Linked DNA regions of Homo sapiens: region 1 is linked to region 2. The links come from fine-mapping of genetic effects on gene expression. A gene starts in region 2. The other region holds a variant in brackets. All regions are shown on one strand. Distances are between the middles of the regions.

The links.
Region 1: its variant is fine-mapped to the expression of MAN1B1 in whole blood (Lepik 2017, PIP 0.95).

The regions. Positions count from the first base shown.
Region 1 is chr9:137,139,146-137,147,408 of GRCh38, forward strand. GRIN1 (glutamate ionotropic receptor NMDA type subunit 1) reads left to right here and starts at 9. Exons shown (of 20, transcript NM_007327.4): 1 at 9-599; 2 at 2,868-3,002; 3 at 6,581-6,757. The coding sequence starts at 342. The variant G/C (reference allele first, on the strand shown) is at 4,720.
Region 2 is chr9:137,082,015-137,090,332 of GRCh38, forward strand. MAN1B1 (mannosidase alpha class 1B member 1) reads left to right here and starts at 4,971. Exons shown (of 13, transcript NM_016219.5): 1 at 4,971-5,204; 2 at 6,061-6,169; 3 at 6,855-6,991. The coding sequence starts at 4,986. UAP1L1 (UDP-N-acetylglucosamine pyrophosphorylase 1 like 1) reads left to right here. Exons shown (of 9, transcript NM_207309.3): 8 at 1-50; 9 at 623-2,524. The coding sequence ends at 715. It overlaps MAN1B1-DT (MAN1B1 divergent transcript), which reads right to left and starts at 4,803. Exons shown (of 1, transcript NR_027447.1): 1 at 2,932-4,803. RefSeq lists enhancers at 1,398-1,727, 4,895-5,124 and silencers at 1,505-1,739, 4,325-4,554, 5,105-5,334.

The sequences.
Region 1 (8,263 bases), 57 kb after region 2:
CAGCTGCTGCAGTCGCCGCAGCGTCCGGACCGGAACCAGCGCCGTCCGCGGAGCCGCCGCCGCCGCCGCCGGGCCCTTTCCAAGCCGGGCGCTCGGAGCTGTGCCCGGCCCCGCTTCAGCACCGCGGACAGCGCCGGCCGCGTGGGGCTGAGCCCCGAGCCCCCGCGCACGCTTCAGCGCCCCTTCCCTCGGCCGACGTCCCGGGACCGCCGCTCCGGGGGAGACGTGGCGTCCGCAGCCCGCGGGGCCGGGCGAGCGCAGGACGGCCCGGAAGCCCCGCGGGGGATGCGCCGAGGGCCCCGCGTTCGCGCCGCGCAGAGCCAGGCCCGCGGCCCGAGCCCATGAGCACCATGCGCCTGCTGACGCTCGCCCTGCTGTTCTCCTGCTCCGTCGCCCGTGCCGCGTGCGACCCCAAGATCGTCAACATTGGCGCGGTGCTGAGCACGCGGAAGCACGAGCAGATGTTCCGCGAGGCCGTGAACCAGGCCAACAAGCGGCACGGCTCCTGGAAGATTCAGCTCAATGCCACCTCCGTCACGCACAAGCCCAACGCCATCCAGATGGCTCTGTCGGTGTGCGAGGACCTCATCTCCAGCCAGGTGCCCTCCCCCACCTCCGCCACCCACCTCCCCTCTCCTCCATCCTGCAACCCCACACCCCCAGTTTCATTCCATCCTTTCCGTGCCCCCTTCCTCCCTGTAAGACACCACCCCAGAGTCAGCTGGCTGCTTCCGGGAGGCCTCGTCTCACTAGGAACCAAACACCAGGGTCTGCTGGCTCCCCTATCTTGGCCTGAGACCAGTCACCTGCCACCTTGGCTGGTCCTCAGAGGGCCCCTGGGGCTCCAGGCCCTGACTGGTGTGTGTAGACGTGGGGCTGGAGTGTGTCAGTGTGGGGGTGGGCATTCCGGGTAAGAGAGTAGAAGCGCCTGTCCAGCTACATGCCCGCCCTGCAGAGCTTTAAACAGGACGGGGCCTGGGGCCATCTTTGTTTCTGCTTCCAGGTTCTCCTGCCCTTTCTTTCGTCCCTTCCCCCTACCGATGGGTCCGCCTGGGAAGAGAAATGGCTCAGGTGCCACGGCAGGACGCTTTGTGGGGGTGGGAGTGGGGGTGCACACGCGAGAGGCATCAGGGCATGGGAGCTGTCGGCAGCCAGCGCTGCGGGGGAGGACGTGGCTCCTGGGATTTTGCCTGTCGGAGCTGTCCGCCCCTGGGCCGAGCGCCTGCTGAATTCCAATGAGGCTGCAAGGATCTGCAATGCAGCCCTTTATGTAAGAGGCAAGACAGACATCCAGCCTAGCACCGCTCACACGTGCCTACCTGATGGACACACCACATCTGTGGACACACATGCTCACACTCACACCAAATGTTACATTAGCACACACTCATGCACCTCAGCATCACACAATCAATTTCATATGCTCATCTGCACACATGCAGATCCATTGACACCTGCTCATGTGCCACACACGGCTTGGCATGCATTCCCAGAGGCACGTGCAAACATGCACATTTACACACATGGTTCCAGTCATTCACACGCATGTACACGAACAGACATGCCAGGGCATGTGATGCACATAACCATACCCTAGCACACGCGTGAACACCTGCATGGTCACACACGGACCTACGGGTCTTTGCCAAGCACCTCTGGGTGCAGGCTGGAAGCAAGAGCTGGGGGAGGGAGAACCACTTCAAACAGCTGCAGCTGCAGGGCCCACACCAGAGTTTTCTCAGAAATCCTCCCTCCCCACTTCACAAGCCACCCCCGTGCCCCAGCCCAGGACACCATGGGATGGGACTGGGGGGATGCATCTGTAGCCAGTGGCTGCAGTCACATATTCCATCTGGGACTGGGGAGGGACACGGAAGGTGGACTCAGGAAATCCAGGAGGGGCCATTCCTGGGGAATTGCTTCAACTCACGCCCATGTTGCTGTCTGTCTGTGGGCATGGCCTCTGCAGCAAAGGCAATGCCTGCAGCTACCACTCACGGAACACACCCCCGGCCAGGTACTGTCCTGCCACGTGGGGCCATGCAGTGCACGCCCCCATTCGCCAAAGCTCTAAGAGGCACAGGCAGACTTGGGGACAGACGCAGGTCCTTGCTGTGTGAAGGTGGTGTGGACCACCAGCTGCCTGCCTCCCTGCCTTGGGAGGCTGGGGAGAGAGGGAGGCATCAGCTCCAGGGGGCTGAGCCGCTGGCTTTAGATCTGCCCCATGGGGCCTTGGTCATGGGCAGGAAGGCTGGGCTGCACCCCCAATGCCTCCCTTCCCTTCCTTGAGGATGAGGCCAGCACTCAAAGTAAGGGCTTGGTGTTGTTCAGACAGAGCCCGTCACAGGCCCTGCCCCTGGAGACACCAGCAAAAGGGATCTCGGCCTCTTTGGCAGCTCCTAGCTGCTTCCCCCTGAAGTCCGGTACCACCCTTCAGAGCTGCCCGCCCTGTCTCGGGATGTGGGCTGGCCCCACCCCTGGCCCATCAGGAAGGACGGGTGGGTTCTGAGAATCAAGGCCATCATGATGCAGGACCAGCCATCCTCCCCGGTCCACCTTGGGTGCGTCCCGTGCTCCAGGCCCCCAGGACATCCCAAGGGCAGTCCTTCACCTGGCCCTTGAGCACAACACCTGCAGGGCCCTAGTCAGCAGTGTGAGAGGAGTGAGGGGAGGTCCGGGTGGGGTCTCCCTCCCCTGCCCTGTGGGCATGTGTGCATCTGGGCCTGGGCATGTAGCATGTACCCGAATCATGCCCCCAGCCCCCCTTAGCCTGCTGGGTTCAGCCCCTGCTGCTTCCAGATCTCAGCCTCTAACCCAGTGCCTGGCTCACCCCTGACTCAAGCTGATCATGTCTCCTGTGTCCACAGGTCTACGCCATCCTAGTTAGCCATCCACCTACCCCCAACGACCACTTCACTCCCACCCCTGTCTCCTACACAGCCGGCTTCTACCGCATACCCGTGCTGGGGCTGACCACCCGCATGTCCATCTACTCGGACAAGGTAAGCCTGACTGCCAGACCAGGCCTTCCGGCCCTCGGCCCCAGGGCACAGCCTGGCCACTCCAGGAGCAGCGGGCCGACCCGCTCACATGGAACTCACACACCACAAACAGCCACACAGCTCCCCCACATTCATGCACGTCCACACGCTCTCACGTGTCCAACTCACACATCTGCAAACATGCTCACATGCACACTCATGTGCTCTTACACACACAATACACACTCTCTTGCACATAGAGGGCTCACGTGGAGCCCAGCACGTGCCCCCAGCCCAGAGCAGGCCAAAGGGAGGGGGCACACATCACACACTCACACATCACACACACATCACACACTCACACATTCATACAGCACCCACACGCTACACTGCTATGCTCACCCTCCCCACACATGAACACTGACACACCCATGGATTCGCACAAAGTCACACACACTCACTGGCACAGGCACCAGTGACACCCCCTCAGGACGAGAGGGCCCGTGGGCTAGGAGAAGGGATGGCTGGGAGGCTTTCTAGACAGGTGGACTTTGAAGGGGAGTTTGGAGAGCTGGGGGTTGCTCCAGGAGGAAAGGGGTGTGCACGCAGCCAGGGTGGTGGGGCCAGCCTTTCCCACTGCAGGCATGGGTGGAGAGCAATGTCTGTGGTTGCAGCTCAGGGTCGGGGGCGCTGGCCTGGGGGCTTCCAGCCTCTAGGGCTGAGGGCACCTTGGCTTAGCCTCCTGCAGACCCTCCTGGCCCACAGGCTATGAGGAGGGCTTCTGTCCAATCCTGGAACATCAGCTGGAAGAGAGGAGGGTCATCCAGTCAGTTTTGCAGGAATCTCCAAGCCAGAGAGCCATGGGGGCTTGCTCTAGGTCACACAGCCCTCCGTCTACCCAGGATGCAAACTGGGCACTGAGAGGCTGACCAACCTGGGGCCACTGGCAGACAGACCTGCAGGGCCACTTGGCAGGGGACATCCAGTTTGGTGCCAGCGCTGAGGAGCCAGAGGGCTGGGCTGTGCAGCCAGGCTTCTGGGTCCCCCACCTTCTCCAAATTCCTCCTGCCCAGAGTCCACAGTCCTTGGTAACACTGCCTTAAAGCACAGGGGTCGCCCCAGCCAGGCCCAGGCTCTTCTGGGAGGATGGAAGGCCCCAGAGGCAGGAACTGAGACAGAGGCTGGAACAGCCACCTTCCTGAGGCTCTGAAAGCCCTGGCGTGCCCCCTCGGCACCCAAACTGCTCCTCCCAGGTGACTTCACCTCTGGCCATGGGAAGGTGGGGGTCTCATTCCTGTGCCCTCAGGCACGACCTCCTTCGCCTCTCTGGGCACCAGTTTCCTCACATGTGAAGGAGAGAAGATGGCCTTACCCAGGAAAGCAGCCAGTGGTCAAATGAAAGGCGGGGGAAACGGATGCCCCTGGCCCAGAGCAGGCCAAAGGGAGGGGGCACAGCTCACAGCTGCACCCTGGCCTTACCACAGTCTCTACACTACAACCAACCTGTGCCCAAAACATGAACCGGCAAGGCCAGGTCAGAGCTAGTCCAAGACCTCAAGCACAGCCTGCCTTGCCACCACGTCACCAGGTGGATAGACAGAAGCAGGGGACATTTTTGCACCCCAAGGCACTGCCCCAGGCCACAAAGAGGGAGCAGGTGAAAAATAACCTGGAAGCCTCAGAGGACCACAAGATCAGCAAGAGTCCACAGGGACACTGAAGGAACCAGGGCTTACCT[G/C]GACAGACACAGAGAACTGAGGCAGAGGGGGGCAGAGCCTGCTCCACTCCCGGCCATGCCACGGCACTCCGTGGCAGCTTGAAGCCAGGAAAAGCAAGCCAGGGCAAGCAAGCACCACGCTCTCGCCTGGGGAGATGAGGCCTTTAGCCCCAAGAGTGAATTCTTCTTCATACATAGAGTTGTTTAAATTTGGGAGGACTCTATGGGCAGCCCCAGGGGGATCTTCGAGGCGCTATGTGTCATCAAGAATTTCCTGAGCTCAGCTTGTCCAAAGGTGGTGGGCTGCAGGGGAAGAGGTGAGCTCACCCCAGGCACAATTCCACAGAAACCCACGTCCCTTAGGGTGCTATGGGGCCAACACTAAACCTCCTCCATTTCCGAGATTATATGTGGGAGGAGAGGCCGGGGTGGGAGAGAGGTTCCCAGGGTCTAAAAAGTGTCCCCAGGATGGTGGGGACAGGGGTGGGAAAAAGGAGGGGTCCCAGTGTCTAGAAAGTGTCCCCAGGTTGGCCGGGCGCGGTGGCTCACGCCTGTAATCCCAGCACTTTGGGAGGCCGAGGCGGGCGGATCACGAGGTCAGGAGATCGAGACCATCCTGGCTAATACGGTGAAACCCCATCTCCACTAAAAATACAAAAAAATTAGCCGGGCGTGGTGGCGGGCGCCTGTAGTCTCAGCTACTTGGGAGGCTGAGGCAGGAGAATGGTGTGAACCCAGGAGGCGGAGCCTGCAGTGAGCCGAGATTGCACTCCAGCCTGGGTAACAGTGCGAGACTGTTTAAAAAAAAAAAAAAGTGTCCCCAGGGTGGTGGGGACAGGGGTGGGAGACAGGAGGGGGTCCCAGGGTCTAGAAAGTGTCCCCAGGGGTGTGGGGACAGGAGTGAGAGGAAGGGGGTCCCAGGGTCCAGAAAGTGTCCCCAGGGTGGTAGGGACAGGGGTGGGAGACACGAGGGGGTCCCAGGGTCTAGAAAGTGTCCCCAGGGTGGCAGGGATGGGATGGGAGACACGAGGGGGTCCCAGAGTCTAGAAAGTGTCCCCAGGGGTGTGGGGACCGGGGTGAGAGGAAGGGGGTCCCAGGGTCCAGAAAGTGTCCCCAGAGGGGTGGGGACAGGAGTGAGAGGAAGGGGGTCCCAGGGTCCAGAAAGTGTCCCCAGAGGGGTGGGGACAGGAGTGAGAGGAAGGGGGTCCCAGGGTCCAGAAAGTGTCCCCAGAGGGGTGGGGACCGGGGTGAGAGGAAGGGGGTCCCAGGGTCTAGAAAGTGTCCCCAGAGGGGTGGGGACCGGGGTGAGAGGAAGGGGGTCCCAGGGTCTAGAAAGTGTCCCCAGGGGTGTGGGGACCGGGGTGAGAGGAAGGGGGTCCCAGGGTCCAGAAAGTGTCCCCAGAGGGGTGGGGACAGGAGTGAGAGGAAGGGGGTCCCAGGGTCCAGAAAGTGTCCCCAGAGGGGTGGGGACAGGAGTGAGAGGAAGGGGGTCCCAGGGTCCAGAAAGTGTCCCCAGGGTGGTAGGGACAGGGGTGGGAGACACGAGGGGGTCCCAGGGTCTAGAAAGTGTCCCCAGGGTGGCAGGGATGGGATGGGAGACACGAGGGGGTCCCAGAGTCTAGAAAGTGTCCCCAGCGGGGTGGGGACAGGGGTGGGAGACACGAGGGGGTCCCAGGGTCTAGAAAGTGTCCCCAGGGTGGTAGGGACGGGGTGGGAGACACGAGGGGGTCCCAGGGTCTAGAACGTGTCCCCATGGGGGTGGGGACAGGGGTGGGAGGAGGGGGGTTCCCAGCCTCCGGCGGGTGTTCCGGCAGTGGGAGGCGGGTGGGAGGGCGGGTCCCCGCGGGTCCACCTCAGCCCGCCGTGCCCCCGCCTCCCGCAGAGCATCCACCTGAGCTTCCTGCGCACCGTGCCGCCCTACTCCCACCAGTCCAGCGTGTGGTTTGAGATGATGCGTGTCTACAGCTGGAACCACATCATCCTGCTGGTCAGCGACGACCACGAGGGCCGGGCGGCTCAGAAACGCCTGGAGACGCTGCTGGAGGAGCGTGAGTCCAAGGTGAGGGTCGGCGCCGCGGGTGGGCGCCTGGCGGAGCCGAGGTGCAGGACGGGCCGCCTTGTGTCTGTGGCTCCGTGTGTGACACCCTCTTCTTTCCATCGTGCATGGTCAGCACCACCACGTCTGGCGAGCGCCCGCCCCAGCCTGTCCTCGGCTCATTTCACTCGCTTTTGCCATTAGTCGAAATCTCCTTCGTGTCAGTCCCTGCGGGGCGAGGGCCAGACCACCTGGAGCTCCGCAAACACCCCTGCCCCGCGCTGCCGAGCGCCCTCGTCCCCTCCTCCTGCCCATGCCCCTCGCTCCCTGGAGGCCCCAGCCGGGCTTGGGACTCGTCACCCTTCCCGCCCACCCTGTCCTGAGTCCCCAGCAGCCTCCCTCTGGGCAAGGTCTCCCCTGTACACGACCCCCACATACCGCCCCTGCAGGCCTGTCCCCTCCTGGCTGGGCCCATTCCCTGTCCTCCCCCGCGTGGCCTCCCCTGAAGCTCTGCACCTCATGGCTCAGCAAAGCCCTGTCCACAGACACCTGCCCCCCAGCCTGGACCGCCCCTGTGGGCTCCACTCCCCTCCTTGCCCCCACCACAGGGCTCCCTCTGCACTCCTCACCAAGACCCATTAGCCACCTGGTTCTAGGACACACTGACCCCCAACACAGCCAGGCGTCCACTCTGTGGGGCTGCAGAGAGATCAGAGCTGGGATTTGGGGGGGTCCGAGCGACCCCTTTCCCCTTCCTTACCACTCCCATTTGCAGTCTGGGGCAGAGCTGGTTCTCGGCTACAGACCCCCGGAGCCCTGGGTGCTCAGCACCTGGGCCAGCTCCTGATCAAGCAGTGGGAGGAGGCCCAGGCTGAGGAGGGCCAGACCTATGGGTGGCTGGGAGCATGTTTCGTGTCAGAGCTGGCTTCATCGGACTTAGGGCCAACCTAGCACCCCCCAAGGCACCCCAGGCCCCGGGAGGGACCAGAGGGCATGGGTCGGGGGTAAAGCCAGGGGCAGACCAGAGGGTCCTGGGAGTACTGTCGTGGGGGGTCTGCTGAGTCTTGGGGGGGAGGGGCATGGGCACCAAGGGCCCCACCCAAGACAGTGCCCCTCACCCCAGTGCCCGACAGGCCCCTCCCCCCAGCGCCCGACAGGCCCCTCCCCCCCAGCACCCGACAGGCCCCTCACCCCAGCGCTCGACAGGCCCCTCACCTTCTGGCATGTCCACCCACGGCCACGGACTCCCATCACACACTCACCCCTGCGCACCCAACTGCCTGCTTTCACTCACAGGTGCATGCACACATTCCCATCACACTCCACACCTCTGGCCACAGGCTCAGGCTTGCCTCCATGCAGCTCCAGCGCCACACACACACCTGGACACGTACTCAGGTGCGCTCCTCACACACACACCTGGACACGCACAGGTGCGCTCCTCACACACACACCTGGACACACGCTCAGGTGCGCTCCTCATGTGCATGCTCACCCTTACTTGCGCCAGCCAGCACAGACACACATGCA
Region 2 (8,318 bases):
ACCCTCCGGCCATCTGTGAGATATCGCCCTTGGTGTCTTACTCTGGAGAGGTGAGAGCTGCCCATCCCTATCTGGGGCTTTTCTGGTGTCAGGTTTGGAATACCATCTGGGGAGAGGTGGCTGCTCGGGTGGAGACGGCACAGCTCTACCTCGGTTAACCAATGGGGTCGGTGGTTTAAATTTGCAGAAGACTTTCCAAGATATGGGTTGGGGTGGGGTGAGGCATCCAGAGGCCTTTGCAGGTCCTGGGAGGGCATGGGGATGAGACAGCCCAGGTCTGAGCCCAGTGTGGGGCCAGTCAGGCCTTGGTGGGGGCCTTGCGGAGGGAGGACACCGGCCTCTGCTACCTCCCTGACCTCGGCTGCCCTTGCCCCTTTCTCTGGTCAGGTCAGACCTGTGCGTGACAGGAGGGTCCCCTGCTGGCCTAGGGTCTTGAGTGTGGTCTTGGGTGGCCTTGCAGTGTGTGTCTGCTCCTGGCCCTGGAAGCCTTTCTGTCCCCACCCCTCCCTGACTCCAGGCAGACCTGGGATCGCACCTGGGGACTGTGGCTCTTGGTGTGGCCAGAGGGGCTGTGACCCGCCAAAAGGTGGGTACTTGGCCATTGTCCCCTGCTCGTCTCCAGGGTTTAGAAGTGTACCTGCAAGGCCGGGAGTTCCAGTCCCCGCTCATCCTGGATGAAGACCAGGCCAGGGAGCCGCAGCTGCAGGAGTCCTGACCCGCCCAGACTGTCCCCAGACTCCCCCGAGACCTGCCAGCCCCGGCATCCTGGAAGTCCCGACTCCCCCCAGACCTGCCAGCCCCGGCGTCCTGGAGCTGGGGGCTACAGCCCAGCCTGAGCTCTGGGTGGGAAAGCAGCCTGCCCCATGCTTCCAGCCTGCAGAACACAGAATGAAACATGCTGGTAGACTCCACGAGGGCAGGGCCTCTCCTGTCGCCTCTGGACACAAGTGGCGACAGCCTGCTGGGGGCTCTGTGGCTCCATTCCTGGCTGTGGGGTCTAGTCAAGAGGCAGAGGGACTTGGGACCTGGGAGAATGGGGCTGAGAGGAGGCTTCGGGTTGGGGCCCAAGGGAGGTGTGGTGTCATCTGGGGAGAACAGGAGGGCATGTCCCTTTGGGAGCCCGCCTTGTGGATCCACCACACCCCACCGAGCACTAGAAGCTGCATAAGCTACACAGGATGTGCTTCTGCAGCCTACAGATGCAGAACCAGAATGAGGGGGACAATTCCACCCACTCGAGGGCTGCCCCCTCTTCCTTAGCAGACGAACCAGTAATGGGGGCAAGGCTGGGGCATCCCAGCCCACACACCCTGGATGCCCAGCAAGGCCACAGAAAGAGCCTGATGTCCATGATCCAGGTGGCTCTGAGAAGCTTGGCCTGGACACCTGAGCCTGCGGCCGGTACTCCTGCCTTCTCCCCATCTATCCCCAAGGCCTCTGCCTCTCAGCCTCTTCCATGGTCGGTTTAGGCTGCTGAGTTTTCTGTGCTTCCCCAAGAACCAGTGGGATCAATGCCGGCGGCCTCTGTGATGGTTGCTGACTAATCCGGGATTTCATGAGTCAGAGGCACCACCCCTCACCCCAGCTGCCTGCTGCTTCTGACGGATCTTGGTGCTCAGGCTGCCTGGCTCTCCGAGTGAGGACGCAGCCTCCATATTTGGTGCACTCAGGCATGGCTGGGACAAGCCAGCTGCCCCAGGGTTCTTCCCCTGGTGATTCTCGCCTGCTTTCTCATCTCAGGGGAGGCAGTGGCACCTCCCTCTCCCTGCTGACATGAAGAGAGCTATGATATGCCACTGCTGCCAACTCATCCTCTGCCCCCACCTCGAAACCCACAGTCCCCAGTGGAGGGCCACTACTCATCCCCATTGGTTTCCCAGGGGAGGGGTGTTGTCTGGAAGGGCAGGTTCAGATGCAGCCTTCCAGATTTAGAGGCACTGGGAGGACAGTGGCTGAGTGGAGGCGCCCAGACCTGGGCAGGCAGCAGGCTCAGGCCCACACCTTGTGATTTTTGAAACCAAAGCCCAGAAGATGATGTTTACTTCTCTCTCCCTGGCTCTGCCCTTCTTACTGCAAACCATGCTGTGCCTTAGGGCCCTTCTCATAGCTGTTCCTCATGGCCATGACTGGAACAGGGATGCAACCTCTTTCTACACAAGCACAGTTAGTTGGGTGAAGTCTTTTTTTTTGTTTGTTTTAGACGGAGTTTCACTCTTGTTGCCCAGGCTGGAGTGAAGTGGCGTGACCTTGGCTCACTGCAACCTCCAGGCCAGCCTCAGCCTCCCTAGTAGCTGGGACTACAGGCACCCACTACCACGCCTGGCTAATTCTTTGTATTTTTAGTAGAGATGGGGTTTGACCGTGTTAGCCAGGATGGTCTCGATCTCCTGACCTCGTGATCCACCCACCTCGGCCTCCCAAAGTGCTGGGATTATAGGTGTGAGCCACCGCGCCGGGCCGGTTGCTGGCATCTTAATGTTCTGTAGGTGGAATATTTCCAATAAACACAAGGTGCCGTAATTGACTGCTACTCTGGCAAGTGCAGTTTTTGGGCAGTGCACGGGTGTTGGGAACAAGGATCAGGTGTTCACAGCTGTGTCCCAGGGCTGGAGCTCACTGGGGGCCCCCTTAGGGACAGGAGTTCACACATGAAGGCCAAGACTACTTGGGGTGCCAAGGAATCCCCCCGCGGTCCCATCCCACTCTTCACCAGGGTCTCAGGAGGGCCTGAGACAACCTGCGGTCAGGAACCTCGGGGCGCTCTCCAGGGCAGGCTTCTGCATGCTCAGCTCTGACAGCCTGGAGACTCGCTCTCCTGCACCTGCATCCTTGAGATGCCAAGGTTTCCCTGCTAACCACGTGAGGATGCTTGGGGTACTCCAGGGACTGACAAGAGTGAGTGGTGTCAACCTAAAGAGAAACTCAGGCTCTCCAGAATAAATGAATTTAATCAAGAATAACACATAATTGCAATGCAGAGTATGCAAGCCTCAGTGGGTCACAGGCATGTGGTGGGGGGGTGGGGTGGGGATTGAGGAAAGGGGGAATTTTTTTTTTTTGAGACTGGATCTCACTCTGTTGCCCAGGCTGGAGTGCAGTGGTGCAATCATGGCTCACTGCAGCCTCGACCTCCTGGGGCTTAGGTGGTCTTCCCACCTCAGCCTCCAGAGTAGCTGGGACCACAGGTGCACACCACCACACTGGACTCATTTTTTTATTTTTTGTAGAGACAGGGGTTTCACCATGTTGCCCAGGTTGGACTCCTGAGCTCAGGGGATCTGCCCACCTTGGCCTCCAAAAGTGCTGGGATTACTACAGGCATGAGTCACTGTGCCCCGCCCACGGGAAATTTCTTTTTTTTTTTTTTTTTTTTTTTTGAGACAGAGTCTTGCTCTGTTGCCCAGGCTGGAGTGCAGTGGTGCCATCTCGGCTCACTGCAACCTCCACCTCCTGGGTTCAAGGAATTCTCCTGCCTAAGCCTCCCGTGTAGCTGGGACTACAGGTGCCTGCCACCAACCATGCCCTGCTAATTTTTTTGTGTTTTTTGTAGAGACGGGTGTCTCACCATGTTGGCCAGGCTAGTCTTGAACTCCTGACCTCAAGTGATCCACCTGCCTCGGCCTCCCAAAGTCCTGGGATTACAGAAGCCACCGCGCCTGGCCCCAAGGGGAATCTTTTAAAAAAGAGAAGTTCCCATAAACTGCTTTGAAACCATAAAGACCAAAGGTTAGAAGGGTTTGCCGCAGGCGCTCCGTTGCTAATGTTTTTGTGAGGGCTTCTTCAGGGCCTCTTGTTAGAGTGTGACATAAACGACTTCATTTGGGTACCAGCAAGTGTCACAGGGGGCAGAGACCAGCAGAAACCTAAAGATGACCCCTAGAAGAGCAGGAGGCCAGGGGAACAGAGTTAGACGAGCCACGTGCTAAGCAGGACGTCGCTGCCGGGGGAGCTCTCCAGACACGCAGAAATGCCACAGTCAGGACCGTGGGACGCAGCGGATTCGCCCAAGGGCAGGAGCAGCCTGGCCAGGAGAGAATGAAGGAGGGGCCGGGCGTGAGGTTCGGCTGGGGAGAACCCAGGCAGGGAGGGCCTCGGGCGGCCACGGACGCCGCTTTGCCATTTTGGGCGTTTCTGGGGAGGACAACGCGTGCAGGAAGCGCAGTCATCTCAAGCTGACCTCCAAGGTTACCGAGTTCGAGGGCTGGGAGCCGGGTCTGAAAGCCCCGACCCGCCTATGGCGCGGGGACTGTGGGTCCAGCCGGCCGATTGGCCGCCTCGCTCGGCGCCGGTCCAGGCGCAGCGCTCGGGCCCCGGGGACCGTGAGATGCGGCGCAGCCAGCTTAGCTCGGGGTAGCAGCCACCCCAGCCCGGGTGCCGCCCGGCCTGGTCCGCGACTTCGGGAGGGTCCGGTCCTTCCCCCGGCCCCCACGCCTGGGTGAGGCCCTGGGCTTCTTGCCGGTGACCACGCGGCCAGGGTGGGCACCAGCCCAGGACGGCGCCCAAGGGCAGCCCAGCTCCATCCCCGCGCCGCGGGTTCCGGAACCGAGGCGCGGGACGCTGGGACTCTCTGCCAACATGGCGGCCCCGCCCGGGCGCCTCCCCGGGTCCCTAGTGTCTGCGTCTCCCGTGAGGGCGTGGGCAAAGTCGGTGCAGCCAGACGACAGGAGGCGAGAGAAGCCCAGCTCCAGGCCCATGAGGCGAACCACGTGGGAGCCCCAGACAGCGACCACGCCCCAGGCGAACCAAGGCCCGCCCCGTTGCTACAGCTACGCTCGTAGCACACCTGGGCAGGCGCTGCCGGACGCATGCGCAATGAACCTGAGGGCAGGGCGGAGTCGCAGCAGTTGTCTGACGCAGTCGCCGTAGGACGCAGCCCCGTACGCTGGAGCGCAGCGGAGACAGGCGCGGGCGCACTGGCCGCATAGAGACGCAGCGCACGCGCAGTCGCGTATCCGTGTGATGGGCGGGCTGTTGACGGCGCTGCGATGGCTGCCTGCGAGGGCAGGAGAAGCGGAGCTCTCGGTTCCTCTCAGTCGGACTTCCTGACGCCGCCAGTGGGCGGGGCCCCTTGGGCCGTCGCCACCACTGTAGTCATGTACCCACCGCCGCCGCCGCCGCCTCATCGGGACTTCATCTCGGTGACGCTGAGCTTTGGCGAGAACTATGACAACAGCAAGAGTTGGCGGCGGCGCTCGTGCTGGAGGGTGAGGGTCGCGCCGGGCTGACTGGGGCCCGGGGCTGCCGTGCCCGCCGCCCTCCCAGACTGCGGCTCCGAGCGGGACCTGGGCGGGCGGACTCGACTCCCCAGGCGCCGCCCTCTCCACCCCTTCCCCGCAAAAAGGGGCAAATGTGCGTTCCTGGTTGGGGCAGCCGTGGGCGGCTCGCCTGCAGCGGTCTCAGCGGCCCAAATTCTGCGGGGCGGTGGTGGGAAGAGGGCTCAGAGCCCCAGCAGGTTTTCTGGGCTTCGTTCGCTTTTCTGCAAGGTCCTGGCCCAGGCGCCTGCCCCTCTTGGAGCGGAAACCGGAGGTTCCCCGTGGTGTATGCTCCCCTCGGTACAGTGAGAAATGAGCCCCTCTTGATTGGCTCCTGGTCTGTTCGTGGTGGTCTCAGGCCGAAGGGCATTGATAACCACATGCGGACTGTGCATCGCCTGGGCGGTGCCTGGGCTACATCTGTGGGAGTCGCAGGAGTCTTTCTCCACTGTTGATGAAATGTGACAGAAATGTTTCTGCTTTTTTCTTATCCTCGTCTCATCTGCACCACTGTATTAACGACATCTGTAGTATTGTCCCAGCAATGTTCCTACTCCCTGCTGAGAGGGAACTTCTCCCCATTCAAAATAAATAGAGCTGGCCGGGCACGGTGGCTCATCCCGCGTTCCACCCACTACACTCCAGCCTAGGTGTAACAGAATGAGACCCTGTTTCCAAAAAAAAAAAGAAATAGAGCTGAACACTGGATCTTCCAGAAGAATTCCTTATTGTCCTCACAGTTTGTGACAGTTGAGACGTTCCGTGTGATATATTCAGTAAGAAATGTCATTCTCTGTACCTCCCTTAGAAATGGAAGCAACTGTCGAGATTGCAGCGGAATATGATTCTCTTCCTCCTTGCCTTTCTGCTTTTCTGTGGACTCCTCTTCTACATCAACTTGGCTGACCATTGGAAAGGTATCAGAAACACGTGTACTTGAAAACGATATCTGTGTTGAGGGTTGATTGGGCAGAAGCAATCTTGCATTCTACCTTAAACAGCTCCAGGAGGCATATATGGCAACGAATTGGCAAGAAATCAAGATAAAGAGAAAGGTAGAGCTGTATGTAACCACCTGGCTAGAACACAGATGTTAATTTGATGCTGTCTGACTACTTTCTAGGTCTCTGGTGTAAGTACTGATATGTCCAGCCTCCCTTATAGAGTAAGTCAGCTGGTGGGCTTGAACACTCAGCCTAAATAACCACACAAATTTCGTAGCACTCATTAGCGTGTGTTTGGAAAAGACCAGGCAGAGTTCTGGTGAGGATGTGGAGAATCTCTTCTCACTTGGTCTAAGATGCTTCTCTTTGGAGCAAAGCTAAAGGGCTCCTGCCCACCTGCCACATGCTGAACGTCCCTGAATGGAAAATAGGAAGGCAAAAGATGTGGGGTTCTGTGTTATGGACAAGGACACAAACTGCCAAGTGTTTTGAAAAAGATTTCATTCCCTTGGGACATTGTTGAATTCATTTCAGTGACTATCAGGTATCATAATGTTGATTTGTAATGGATAGTGCCTGCCAAGTGTTTTTATAAAGCAGTTTAAATCTCTTGTAGGCCTTGTGGCATATTTGAAATAAAATAGCTTCTGTTATTCAGCTCTGGCTTTCAGGCTAGAGGAAGAGCAGAAGATGAGGCCAGAAATTGCTGGGTTAAAACCAGCAAATCCACCCGTCTTACCAGCTCCTCAGAAGGCGGACACCGACCCTGAGAACTTACCTGAGATTTCGTCACAGGTACTTTGAGCAAATGGTGTGGGGTTATAACTGGGGTTCAATCCAGAGGCATTTCAAACCACTGAAGATTGAGAAGAATTATTTTCCTTTACCATTTATTACCACGTGTTTACCTCTCTCTCGTTTTGGACTGGTCGGATAATACTTGGGGAAAGAGAGGCGTAGTCTTTGCTTCATTCTTTTTGAAGACCAGCCATGGCCAGTTCCGGTTTTACTTCTGACTGTGCAGTGTTGAATAAGACAGACCTGTTTCCTCTCAAGAGGCCACAGCTGGTAGGAGAGGCTGGTGAGAAGCCAGGCACAGATGGGCAGAGGCAGATGGCACATGGTGTACATCCTATGTGGAAAAGAGCAGGGCGCTGGTGAAGAACAGTGGCTGGTCCTGAGGGTTCAGGGGAGGCCGTGGCACTGAGGGCAAGATCTGAGGGCTGAGAAGCTGCTGGCACCGGGCAAGGTGGGGAGAGGCAGACTTGAGCCTGAGTGAAACTGCCTGAGGCAAGGAGGACCTTGGCATATGCGGGAAGGTGAAATTCCCAGGGCTGGGAGAGGGAGCAGGGGTTGGCTCAGTCCAGCTGTGGTCCTGCAGGTCCTGGAGGCAGCATGGAGGGTCCAGTTGATGTATGCGGGAAGATTTTGGCGTGGACTGGAGGTCTGAGATGTTTACTGTGAAACTGCTCTGGCTGGGTGGAGACACAGTGGAGGGCAGGAGGCCAGGAGAGCTGCCTGGCCGTGGGAAAAGCTGAGTGGGGGGAGGAGTGCTCCGCAGGAGTGGGCCTTGGGAGAAGGAGGGTGAGTCCCCGGGTGGAGGGGCCAGCAAAGGCTGTGCAGGCTCTGGCTTGGGGACACTGAGGAGCTCCGTTTTGGATCTGCCCACTGTGAGATGTCTGGGAGGCGCCATGGAGACCTTGGTGGGCAGGTGGTGCCAGGATCAGAGTCTGCCAGGGGAGACAGGTTTTAGGAGTCCCTAGGTATAGGTGGTTTGTGTCCTCTGGAAACGTTGGAAGAAGGGGCCAGGCCTAGTCCTGGGCACCACCAGGCTGAGAAGATTGGGGTCAGGGAGGAGGGCAGGGGGAGTGGAGACTGGGGATGGGTCAGGAGGCAGCTGGAGAACCAGGAAAACGTCCTGTCAGTGAAGGTTTGGTTCAGGAAGAACAGCCAAATCCCCGACACCGTTGAGAACACCAGGGTGGTGCTGACTCTGGTGTGGCTGCTCGGAACCCTTAGAAGGCCCTTAGGGTGTTAGTTACTGTTGTTGGTACATCTGTGATTGTGTCTAGCAGGTGTGGGAGTGCCTTGGGAGCTTCACCTGTGGCCAGAGTCCTCAGCG